Regions from separate parts of the Homo sapiens genome. Here regions 1, 3 and 4 are each reported to be linked to region 2. Evidence: microRNA targets listed by miRTarBase, many of them from high-throughput screens and not tested one by one. Region 2 holds a microRNA gene; each other region holds the end of a gene's coding sequence. Distances are from middle to middle.

Region 1 (3,138 bases), not on the chromosome of region 2:
CTACCATGCCTACTTCTCTCCCCCGCAGTCTCAGCCAGTGCCATCAACTGCAGCCCTTGCCTCAGCATCTGAGCCAATCTAGCATTGCCAGCTCAATGTCCCATAGCACCACTGCCTCTGATCAAAGGCTCTTGGCCAGCATTACACCCTCACCTTCAGGCCAATCCATCATCCGAACCCAACCTGGAGCAGGGGTCCACCCAAAGGCTGATGGTGCTCTGAAGGGAGAAGCTGAGCAATCTGCAGGGCACCCTAGTGAGCACCTCTTCATCTGTGAGGAATGTGGGCGCTGCAAGTGCGTCCCCTGCACAGCAGCTCGCCCTCTCCCCTCCTGCTGGCTGTGCAACCAGCGCTGCCTTTGCTCTGCTGAGAGCCTCCTCGATTATGGCACTTGTCTCTGCTGTGTCAAGGGCCTCTTCTACCACTGCTCCACTGATGATGAAGACAACTGTGCTGATGAGCCCTGCTCTTGTGGGCCTAGTTCTTGCTTTGTCCGCTGGGCAGCCATGAGCCTCATCTCCCTCTTCCTACCCTGCCTGTGCTGCTACCTGCCTACCCGTGGATGCCTCCATCTGTGCCAACAGGGCTATGATAGCCTCCGGCGACCAGGCTGCCGCTGCAAGAGGCACACCAACACTGTGTGCAGAAAGATCTCTTCTGGTAGTGCACCCTTCCCCAAGGCCCAGGAAAAGTCTGTATGACCTTCCAACAAGGTGGATCCAGAGCTTTTCTCCTTCGAGTCCCCAACAGCAAAGCATAGGCCTCATCTTTGGAGAGGGGGAGGAGTGATAAACTAGCCAAAGTTAGGGCCTCTCTTTTGTTCCTGCAGTGTCAGGGGAATGACCAAGTACATCCTGGTGCAGGATGCCTTGTTCTTTCTCACAGTATCTATCCCACTCCTCTTCAGTCTTTACACCCTGCCAGCTCAGCCTTTATGGTTGTCATGGCAAATTCAGGTGATATATGGGTATGAGGTTTGAACACTGAGGACTGACAGGGCCAGCAACGTGGAGGTTTAGGGGCTCCCCAATGTAATACCTCTCGATGCAGGCTCTGATCGTCACTCTGTTTTCTGCTGTGCCTTTGGAAGCTTTCTTCTAAGATGGTTTTCACAGGTACATGTGGAACAGCGTTCAACCTTCCAGGGAATACGACCCCTTCTCCCTGTTACTGCCCTTCTCTTCTTTATTCCTCTCTCCTCTTTCATTATTCTGTTCTGTATTCCTTTCCCCTTCATTCTCACCCTGTCTGCTTTTACTTTTTCTCTTTCTTCCTCCCTTTCTCCTTCTCCCCTCCTTCTTTTTCAGACTGATCCTTTCTCTGCCTGTATTTCTATCTCATTTGATCTATATTTGTCTCTCTCTACCTGTCCCTTTTTCTCTAACATGTCCAAAAGTGCTGTTTTTCCATAGATGTTTCCTTAGATGCCAAACTTTGCTATGCTATACTATTTACTAATTTTTATTAAGGGAAATGGATTACTGTAATGAACTGATCACTAGCAATAGTGTGTATCCCGATGTGTGTGTGTGCTCACAACCACTCTCACCTGTTCGTGAGCGCATGAGGCGAAGTTATCTTATATTTCCAGGTTTAACTAGTTGGAGTTTTTCTCCCTTTCTCAATAATCAACTTATAGTGCTGACAGATTCCACTAGCATGCTGAGTAGGATAGTAAATCAGGATGCTCATAACTTTGTATGTCTGACCCAAGTGCCAAAGGCAGACGTGCTTTATAGCTAAATGAACAAAGCAAAGGATACAGAGGTATGTTCTCTCTTAGAAGCTAACTTCCCTGAGACTGCATGGCTCAGGCGTTAATAATGGACATAAAAAGTCATAAAACGTTAGAGCTGGAAGGAATCTTAACTATTAATCTAGTTCAATGCCCTTATTTTACAGATGGGAAAACTGAGGCCTGGAGGTAGGAAGGGACTTGCCCCCAAGGCCGCACACTGAGTTAACAGCAGAATTGAGACTGGAATATAGGCCTTCTGACTCCTAGTTCAGTATTCTTACCCCTGTACCACATTGAGTCATGGGACTTTTTCCTAGGGCTCTATTAACAGTGACAGAAAGCCATTCCCATTCAATTACTTTTCAGGAACCATGCCTAGTTAGTGTGGTGGTCTTTCTCCAGTGCATGGTGGGTAGCTAATTAACTATCAGGTGTTGAGGCTGCCCCCAGTGGACATCACCTTTGGCTCTGTCACCTTGTAGAAGCTCAAGTGTGGAAAAGAAAAGCTTAAAGAAGCCCTAACCAAGCTGTATCTTCGCCATTGCATCTACTCTTTGCTGCACACACTGTGCTTGCTCCTGGCTTTGTCTGCAATGGCAGCTGCCTGAGAACTTAAATTTCAGCAACAGTGAAAAACTGAGATGAAAGATGTATAATGTAGAGAACTGACTTCTCTCTTAAAAAGTACAGAGAGCCTGTGCTGTGAACCCCCTTCAATGGGAAAAAGCTGCAGTGGTGATGGCAGGCTCCTAAAGACTGCTGCTAAAAGACACAAGAATTATACAGTTTCCCTCTATAAGTGAATCCAAAATTCACTGACGAATTCAGAGATTGAGGGCACTTGCTTGAAATCAAGGTGCTCCAACTTAGTTTAAGACCTCCAGACTCTAACTTTATAGATCATCTCTTCTAGAGTGTGCATGGATGTGTGTTGCAGGGTGGAGAAGTGGGGAGAAGTGTATAGTAGTACACGGGGGGAAGAGGGGACCTCCATGTCCCTTTGTTGGATACATATTACAGAAATATGTGCCACTCACTTTTTGTTGGTTCTGAATCTTCCTGAAGTGTACTGACATTTGGGCTGCACAGAGCCCCACACCTTCACTTACACCTCCTCTTCTAGAATTGCTTTGCTCTATTTTTGTATATATAAATATGTTATGATGATTATTAATAATGTTAATGATATTGCTGCAAATGGTGCCATATATAAGGTTAGGCTTCTTGGAACATTTATAAACCCAAACCAATACCTGTAACCTCTTATGTTGCTTTCAGATCCTTCAATTTTAAGTAACTTTTTAATCTTACAAGTCTGCTTGATTGTACTTTACACTTATCTACCCTGAAAAGCTCTGCCCAGTTCTCTGGGTCAAGCTGGATGGTGATGAGTAGCAACA
Region 2 (3,138 bases):
AAGCAACACAATTTGCAAGTCAGAAAGCAGATAAATGAATGACGGGCACCAAAGAAGGCTAAACCTCATACCAGCAGTGAGGAAAGCCAAAAACCAACCCAGTTTACCATAGAAACCTCAATAATTACTGACTGCCCTAGTGCCTATGAAAATTAAAAAGGGCAGTGGGGAGCCTCATACAAGGAGCACTGGGTGAAGACTAAAAATTACTTAGATGCCTAGATCCCCACCTCACTTCAGGTTGGAAGGTGACTGCCCTTCTAGAGCTTTATTCTCTGAAGACAGTAGGAGAGGGCTCCTAGCCTGGGAGATGCTAACAACTGTTGAAGGCACAGGTACAGATGCGATGCTGAAATTAGGGGGATTCATGAACATATCTAACCACTAAGAATCCTCCACCCCACTCTCTGTTCTTCAACTAGATCCTAGAACACTGGAAACCATTCTCTTACCACCCTCCAGTCAAGAGATTGGAACTCTTTTCTCTGGAAGCCAACTAGTCTAAGAGAAAAAGACCTAAAGACTTCATATTATGAATTCCCTAGGACATGGCCAACCAGATCACCCGATAGTGAAACTCAAGGTCAACAAGTGCCAACCATATGCTTGCAATTTCCAAATCAGTTTAGTCTTTCCTTCATAATCATAAGACAGCCAGGAAAAAAAATTCTTAATAGGGAAGAGCTCAAAACAACAACACAGAAAAAAGCAAATTAGAGGTAACTGAAAAAACCAAAAATTATAAAATCCTTTGAAAGATCAAAATCCGAAAGGTAAGGTATTGCATCCATCTATAAGAACAGAGTGGTACAAAACACACAGAAAACAGAGCTCTTGAAAAATTAAACTAGTTTAATTTAAAAATATTCATTGAAAGGCTGGGCGCAGTGGCTCACGCCTATAATCCCAGCACTGTGGGAGGCTGAGGCAGGTGGATCACAAGGTCAGGAGTTCAAGACCAGCCTGGCCAAGATGGTGAAACCCCATCTCTACTAAAAATACAAAAAATTAGCTGGGTGCGGTGGCAGGCGCCTGTAATACCAGCTACTCGGGAGGCTGAGGCAGGAGAATCGCTTGAACTTGGAGGGCAGAGATTGCAGTGAGCCGAGATCATGCCACTGCACTCCAGCCTAGGCAACAGAGTGAGACTCAGTCTCAAAAAAAAAAAAAAAAAAAAAAAAATCATTGAAAACTTAAACATTACAGCAAAAAGTCAACAAAAGGATTAAAAGACAAAGCAGATAAAATTTCAAAGAAATAAAAAGACAAAAAAATTAATAAAAAGCAAGAAATTAAAAGGTGAGCATATTAGAGTATATTACAGAAGGTATAATATCAAATAATGGCTGGCCAAAGAAAGATAACAGCCAAGTGCAGTGTCATGCACCTATACCCCAGCTACCCAACTACTTGGGAGGCTGAGGCAGGAGGACTGCTTGAGCCCAGAAGTGTGAGAACAGCCTGGGCTGAACATAGTGAAACACAGTCTCAATTAAAGAAAAAAAAAAATTTGGCAGGGCTGGGACAGTAGCTCATGCCTGTAATCCTAGCACTTTGGGAGGCTGAGACAGGAAAATCGCTTGAGCTCAGAAGTTTGAGACCAGCCTGGGCAATATAGTAACACCTCATCTCAAAAATAGTAACAATGAACAAAAATTAAAAAGGAGAGAACAGTAAAATGCAGGAGAGGAAATCATCAAGAAAATCATTCAAAAAAACTGCCTAGAACAGAAAGACAGAAGTTGCTAGAATGAAAGAGTCTAGCAAGTAGGCATCACAGGGGATGAAAATATATCTACACAAGGCTAAAGAAAGAGAACAGCCAAGTGTACTGTGGATATATCTGTTCTCTTCCTTTGGCCTTGTGTAGATATATTTCAGAGTTAAATTTCTGGATACGAAAAACAAAGATTCAAGATTCCTAGCAGGGCATGGTGGCTCATGCCAGTAATCCCAGCACTTTGGGAGGCTGAGGTGAGTGGATCACTTGAGGTCAGCAGTTCGAGACCAGCCTGGCCAAAATGGCAAAACCCCATCTCTACTAAAAATAGAAAAACTAGCCAGGCGTGGTGGCAGGCCCCTGCAATCCCACCTACTCGGGAGGCTGAGGCAGGAGAAACACTTGAACCCAGGAGGCAGAGGCTGCAGTAAGCCAAAATTGTGCCACTGCACTCCAGCTTGGCCAACAGAGTGAGATTCCATCTCAAAAAAAGAAAAGAAAAAAAAAAGATTCCAGAGACAGAAAAGCAAAAAATAAAGAATAAAACAAGTCACATACAAAGAATCAGGAATTGGAAGAGCTCTGGACTTCACAAAAGCAATACTGGAAGCAAAAAAACAATTCAACACTGCCAATAAAATACTGAAGGAAAAACTTCCAATCCAGCCAAACTATGAATAGAATAAAGATATTTGCAAAAATAAATACAGATATTTAAATGCAGCCAATCTCTAAAAATTCCATCTCATGCACTTGTTCTTTAGAAGCTACTAGAGAATGTGCTCCACCAAAATGAAAGTATGGGGGTGGGGAGGAACCTGAGATGCCAAAAACAAAGAAATCCAAGAACTACATTAAAGGAGATCCCTAGAATGGGATCTCCCTAGGAAAATAGCTGTGCAACAGATATAGAGGGAAACCAGTCCAGACTACAGCAGTGTTATTTCCAAAGAAAGTCATACTGCAGGCTATTATCATTAAGCTACCTGCTACCGCCTCTCTGTAGTCTTTGAATGCCTGAGTGACCCAGACTGGATTTTAAAATCTGTATTTATCTTGTTTCAACTATGTGTCAATGAAATTCCAGCTCTCCCTTCCATGTCTTATGTGCCACTACCTAGATCAGCTAATGACATCATTTTATCCAGCAGAAACATTCTGACCTACTTGTGAAAAATAGGGGTAAATCACCATAAGCCTAGAATGAGAATATATATAGAGTAGTCTGCTACTACGACTGAGCACACTCCCACATAACATCCACTGCGAATGTGTCACATATTCTTTTTATTTTATTTTTTTTAAGATGGAGTTTCGCTGTTGCTACCCAGGCTAGAGTGCAATGGTGTGATCTTGACTCACTGCAACCTCTGCCTCCTGGGTTCAAGCGATTCTCCTGCCTCAGCCTCCCAAGTAGC
Region 3 (3,138 bases), 210 Mb from region 2:
GGATTGGCATCATGGCTTTCCCTCAGGAAGGTGGTGGCTGGTAAATTCCCTGAATGAGTCTATGATGAACACTGAGGCAGCACAGTGGGTATTTATCTCTATGAAAGTGCCTTTTACTCAGCCTGCACAGAGCCATCTCTTTGCCCTTCCAGATGTCTGACTGGGACCTTGCTTATGGATGTGTTTTTTTTTTTTTTTTTTTGAGATGGAGTCTCGCTCTGTTGCCAGGCTGGAGTGCAGTGGTGCGACCTCAGCTCACTGCACCCTCTGTCTCCCGGATTCAAGCGATTCTCCTGCCTCAGCCTCCCGAATAGCAGGGACTACAGGCATGCGCCACCACGCCCAGCTAATTTTTTTTGGATTTTTAGTAGAGACGAGGTTTCACCATATTAGCCAGGATGGTCTCCATCTCCTGACCTCCTGATCCGCCCACCTCAGCCTCCCAAAGTGCTGAGATTACAGGCATAAGCCACCGCGCCCAGCCAGATGTGTGAGCTTTTAATCTCTGGCTGATCTTAACCCACATCAGCCTAAGCTTGGGATGATTACTCTTGACCCTTTTTTTTCAGTGATTAGCAAATCTCCCCACAACCCAGGTGTGGAGAGAAGAGAGGTAGAATGGTGCTAGTTTCCTATTTTATTTTTGTGGTAACTGTACAGCACTTTAAAGTTATATACTCTATGTTTAAATATCTCCCTTAAAAAGCCTGAGCTGTACAACAATCTGGATGTGACTCTGTTACCCTTTTCCCACAAGATAGGAGGGAATCCCCTTTGTAAAACTATGAATCCAAATAAATGTTTACAAAGTGGCTCTTGTGATAATTGGTAATTAAACCATTACCAATTTTATTTTTGAAAAGGCAACACTGTAATAGTATATGCTGTCATTGCCCTGAGCCTGATCTGAACCAGAGTCTAGTTTGACCTGTCTTCTACCCAAGGCATTATTCCTTGTTGTTGATGTGGTATCTAAGAGGCTTAAACAACCTCTAAGGGACAAACTTGCAAGGTTATAAGAGAACTGCTTCTTTTTTTTTTTTTAACTTAAATTTTATTTTTTTGAGACACGGTCTCGCTCTCTTGCCCAGGCTGGAGTGTGGTGGCATGAACACGGTTCACTGCAGCCTGGACCTCCTGGGCGCAAGTGATTCTCCCACCTCAGCCTCCCGAGTAGCTGAACTATAGGCACATGCCACCATGCCCAGCTAATTATTTTTAAAATATTTTGTAGAGATGAGGTCTTGCTTTGTTGCCCAGGCTGATCTTGAACTCCCAAAGTGCTGTGATTAGAGGTGTGAGCCACTGTGCCTGGCCTAATTTAAATGTTAAATTCTACTTTTATCGTGTATGTCATCTCTCCAGTCATTTTCCTGGAAGACCTGCTTTTAAGAATGTATGGGGCTTAGTGCGGTGGCTCATGTCTGTAATCTCAACGCTCTGGGAGGCTGAGGTGGGAGGTTTGCTTGAGACCAGGAGTTTAAGACCAGCCTGGGCAACATAGCAAGACCCCATCGCTACAAAAAAATTTAAAAATTTCCTGGGTGTGGTGGTGCATACCTGTAGTCCCAGCTACTCAGGAGGCTAAGGTGGGAGGCTCACTTGAGCCCAGGAGTTTGGAGGCTGCAGTTAGCTAATGATCCCACCACTGCACTCCGGCATGACAGAGCTAGATACTGTTTCTAAAAAAAAGAAAAAGAGTATAGGGCAAAATCTCTACAGAAAGGGGGAAGAAACCCCCTAGAAGGGCAGGACCTTATAAGGAAAGAGGAGAAGCCAGTAGCCTGTTTAAGTTCATACACCTTAAAATTAACAATAATCCTATGCCCCTGAAGGATACTGGGTAATCGCAACTCAAGAGATGGACACAGCAAATGCATTCTCTCTCCAAGTCCTTCCTTTAATGTCAGGTAGTGCTTCAACCCAAACACAAGCAGTATACATACCATAGAGAAAGGGACCTGAGGGCATCTGAGTCATGCATGGTGTGGTACATACAAACCTTGGCCCAGCCCAAAGGAGCAGTCAAGGGCCTGGAAGAAAGATGGTTTGCTCTTTCCCCCTCCTCCTCTCTCTTTCCTACCGGGCTTAAAGTCCGTGGAAGAGAAAGTTTTTAATCAGTGGAACTGATAAGGCCTCAGGGCCGTGGAGGGTAGATTTGGTTGTTCAGTAATATAAAATGTGTTTAAGAAAAAAAACAGCCCAGGCTTCCCAGCAGTAGCCCATGTGTTGGCTGGTTCAGCAGCCTGACCTCTACATCTAGACAAGGAAGTGAGGAGGGTGATTGCTGGGCATTGGTGTAGGTTTATGACGGAGCAGCATAAGATTTTCCGTGCCCTGTGAACATGTATACAAACATTCATAGCCCCTTCCCCTCAGCCCTGCTCTGCTGCAAGGAAGCTGCTGAGTGAGTGACAGCTGGGCACAAAGTGTCTTGTGAGACCAGCTATAGGGTCTAATGCAGTGAAGTCAGTCATTTAGGACCTATTTTCACACAGGGGCAAGGAAAAACCAGAAACAACTTCTCTCTTACCCTTTAAACTAAGATACTTCATTCTACACGATTACCTGAAACAAATGTCTCAGGTCAAATCACAAGCCTTAGCTTCTGCTAGGGTTTGAAGTCTGGGAAATATATAATCCAGCTCTTCTCTTTCAGTCCAAGCTCTAGCTTGTCAGCAAGACTGTTGCAGAAGATCTATCCTTAAGAGGCAGAAACATCTGCGGTGAGGAAGGCAGCTATTGAAGGTATTCCAGGAGCATGAGACTGAGTTTGCAGAGCTGAGGGTTGTCAATTTCCTTTTCTACTGATATCTTCTTCCTTTAGAGCAAACTTCCTCCTTAGGACCTCAGAGATAAGCACAGCAGGGTCTTCCTCCTTCAATAAACTCCGGTTCCTAGAGACACAATAATAGCTTGAGTACTTACTCTTTCCTGTGTAGTGCTGTATATCTTTTGAATACATTATCTCGTTGAATCCTCACAACAATCTTACGAGGTAGGTGCCATTACAATTCCCTTTCACAGATAAGGAAATTGAAGCACAGAAAGGTTATACAAGTTGCCCAAGGTCACTAGTCACTCAGCAAGTAAGCGGTGAATCCAGAGTTCAGAACCAAACTAGCTGGTTCCAGATCT
Region 4 (3,123 bases), not on the chromosome of region 2:
ATATATTTAATATTAAACCCATTTTTGCTTTATGGTGTATTTTCAGTTCCACAGTCTTTGACTTATTGACATCCATGACTAATGTTATATATGTCACACATTAGGAAAAAAATGTTGTCTTCATTTATGTCCCCCTGAATATTTCTGTAACATTTAAATTATGAAAAATGCTGTATGTTAATAACTAGTTTTAGTCCTCTGAAGTATATATGATTGTTACTATTGAAGAGAATTGACACATGAATCTTTTTGAAATATTATAGCAAGTTTATTTAACTACTGAAATCTTTAAGTTTTAATGCATTGTGATCTTTAAAAAATTCTAATATGTTGAACTTCACCCACACTAGTAAGTCCCACCTGACAGTATGTAAAAAGTTACAAGCTAATTGTAAAACTGGAAATTGTTTTGTTTCAATGTTACTTTTTTTCTTCTCTCAATTCAGATTCCAATGGTATTACATCTTTTTGATACTCTGCATGCTCTTTGCAATCTTCTGGTAGTTGCCCCAGATAATTTAAAGCAAGTCTGCTCAGGAGAACAACTTGCTAATCTGGACAAGAATATACTTCACTCCTTCGTACAACTTCGTGCTGATTATAGATCTGCCCGCCTTGCTCGACACTTCAGCTGAGATTGAATTTACAAAGGAATTCAGTGTCAGTTCCTTTACAGAGGAATGTCTTATACTTCAGCAGCCCTCGGTTGATAGAAAGCACAGGAGATACCTTATGACACAGCCAACATTTTGTGAAACAATGACTGGAACAAAACAGCAGCCATACTTACCTTTGAGGTTTTATTTAAAGTTTGGATACCACTAGCTATATTTTGCTTTTTTCCCCTCACATTGAATTTTAATTCCATTCTTGAATGTAGAAATTTCAGATTCTCTAAAACTACATGTCACTGTTTTTATCCTAGAAAATGTTGCTGTCAGAAGGCAAAGGAAATGTTACCAGTGTTTTCGGTTCTTGTACTTTTAACATATTCCATTTAGAAATTTTGCCATTCTGTTTTCCATTAATAATAGGTGAAATACAGGAAAACTACATTTGTTATTCCTCAGTTTTTAATGACCTTTTCAGCATCAATTGTTAATCAGATTATTTTAGGTTTTCGTAAATAATTTTTTTGCCTCTTTCAAAAGGTTAACAATTAAGCATACTTTCTGCAGTTGGTTGATTGGATTTTTTTCTGAGGTACAGCATTAATACTAGTCCAAAAAATGTCATAAACTGAACTAAAATGATGAACTATTTTATGTAGACATTAGGAGTGGATCGGAATACTTCTGCTTTCTGGGTAAAACTTAAAAGTTTACTATTTCTTATTTGGTAAATAGATTTTAAGCCAATTCTAGTAAGAAATTAATAAAACTACCTTATTTTGTATTTCACTTAAGGTGGAGGACCTTAACTAAAGGACCATATTTATTCATTATTTTAATATTATAAGGGAAGTAAAAAAAAGTGAGGTATAGTCTAAATGGTGCATATAGGAAATACTGACAGTGTTTAGCAACATGCAGCCCTTTGAGATTTCTGTCGTAATGCTAAACTTGAATAAGATGGAATGGCTGAACATGTGGTTAGTCTTTTATTTTAAGAAGAATTGAGAATTGATAGATTTGGAGATGAGCTTTGCAAAGGCTGTTTGCTTTTCATGTCTATAGGTCTGTCATTGTCCTTTTTCAAAGCATTTCTGAAGTTATTCCTACTTGGATATAGTTAATGGAATTGGCTTAATTTGATGACATAATAAATCACTTATAAAATTTTAAATATCAAGTGAAAATTTAGAAAGGCCATTACTATTCTATAAACCTTATAAACTTGCTCTGGGAGAATGCATTCTAAATTATATATAGTGTTTCAGCTCCCATTGTGGTGTTCATAGTCTTCTAGGAACAGATAAACTTAAGTATTCAATTCACTCTTGGCATTTTTTCTTTAATATAGGCTTTTTAGCCTATTTTTGGAAAACTGCTTTTCTTCTGAGAACCTTATTCTGAATGTCATCAACTTTACCAAACCTTCTAAGTCCAGAGCTAACTTAGTACTGTTTAAGTTACTATTGACTGAATTTTCTTCATTTTCTGTTTAGTCCAGTGTTACCAAGGTAAGCTGGGGAATGAAGTATACCAACTTCTTTCAGAGCATTTTAGGACATTATGGCAGCTTTAGAAGGCTGTCTTGTTTCTAGCCAAGGGAGAGCCAGCGCAGGTTTTGGATACTAGAGAAAGTCATTTGCTTGTACTATTGCCATTTTAGAAAGCTCTGATGTGAATTCAAATTTTACCTCTGTTACTTAAAGCCAACAATTTTAAGGCAGTAGTTTTACTGGCCATTTAAGCTCTTTGTACAGTGTCAATTTGTAAAAAAGAAAAAACGAAAAAAAATCTCAAATAAAACATGAGATAACATTTTAAGACTTCCAAATCAGAGAAGTGCTTCAAATTATTTTGTTTGGATTAATTTTTAAAATGTAAAGCATATACTTGTTGCTTAGTTATTTTGTTTATTATTTTCATGTTTGAGTTCTGTGCAATATTTTCTATTATGTCCGTTGATAGGACAGTGACAAAATTCGTAAGTGAATACTTAATTTAAAAGTGTTAACATTAATGCTCAATAAACAAATTCCCTGCAGTTGTTTTTTTTATTTCACTCTTTTTATATTTTAGAGCCATCCATCCTGAATTTTATAAATGATTTTTTATTTAAAAATTTGAGATTTTTAAAATTTTTCACAGCACAGGTCTTCTCATTTTCTTTTTTAGCAAAAAATACTTGACTATATAAACAAGACTAGAAATTTATCCTAAACAGATGGTCTTTCTCTGAGGGAAAAAAAAAAATGTGTCATGTGAGGCAATATGCATTCTTTGTATTCTGATTTTTTAAGTGTTTTCATATTTATAGCCATCACAAAATTTTGCCCAAAGTGTATGGCTCAGAAGAGATGATCAATAACTAAAATGTTTTTCGTTTTGCACATGGTAAAATTTTAGGTAGAGAGTGGAGCTTTGTATAATTGGTAACTTTAACCAACATTTACGTAAGTACGGTCTTTGCAGTATTACACAATACCGCATGAGCTAATATGCAGTATTTAGGTAA

The links. The annotated mature microRNA hsa-miR-4753-3p reads UUCUCUUUCUUUAGCCUUGUGU and lies in region 2 at 1,798-1,819, opposite strand. An mRNA with a match to its seed (bases 2 to 7 or 8) in the 3' UTR can be bound and repressed. Matches are read on the target gene's strand: a 7mer-m8 pairs with bases 2 to 8, a 7mer-A1 pairs with bases 2 to 7 and ends in A, and an 8mer does both.
Region 1: miRTarBase lists SPRY3 as a target of hsa-miR-4753-3p. The part of its 3' UTR that is shown has no 7-base or 8-base seed match.
Region 3: the mRNA of MTFR1L is a reported target of hsa-miR-4753-3p. Seed matches in the 3' UTR shown: 8mer at 2,649-2,656 and 7mer-m8 at 2,072-2,078.
Region 4: the mRNA of EXOC5 is a reported target of hsa-miR-4753-3p. The part of its 3' UTR that is shown has no 7-base or 8-base seed match.

The regions. Positions count from the first base shown.
Region 1 is chrY:56,960,558-56,963,695 of GRCh38, forward strand. It overlaps SPRY3 (sprouty RTK signaling antagonist 3), which reads left to right. Exons shown (of 3, transcript NM_001394354.1-2): 3 at 1-3,138. The coding sequence ends at 701. Among named protein-coding and RNA genes, the nearest start is that of SPRY3, 39 kb to the left of the region's middle.
Region 2 is chr1:235,188,243-235,191,380 of GRCh38, forward strand. It overlaps MIR4753 (microRNA 4753), which reads right to left and starts at 1,874; the gene lies at 1,792-1,874. All of the region lies in intron 19 of ARID4B (AT-rich interaction domain 4B), which reads right to left.
Region 3 is chr1:25,831,680-25,834,817 of GRCh38, reverse strand. It overlaps MTFR1L (mitochondrial fission regulator 1 like), which reads right to left. Exons shown (of 7, transcript NM_001099625.2): 7 at 1,880-2,897. The coding sequence ends at 2,792. It overlaps AUNIP (aurora kinase A and ninein interacting protein), which reads left to right. Exons shown (of 3, transcript NM_024037.3): 3 at 1-812. Among named protein-coding and RNA genes, the nearest start is that of MTFR1L, 13 kb to the right of the region's middle.
Region 4 is chr14:57,206,121-57,209,243 of GRCh38, reverse strand. It overlaps EXOC5 (exocyst complex component 5), which reads left to right. Exons shown (of 18, transcript NM_006544.4): 18 at 447-3,123. The coding sequence ends at 635. Among named protein-coding and RNA genes, the nearest start is that of EXOC5, 61 kb to the left of the region's middle.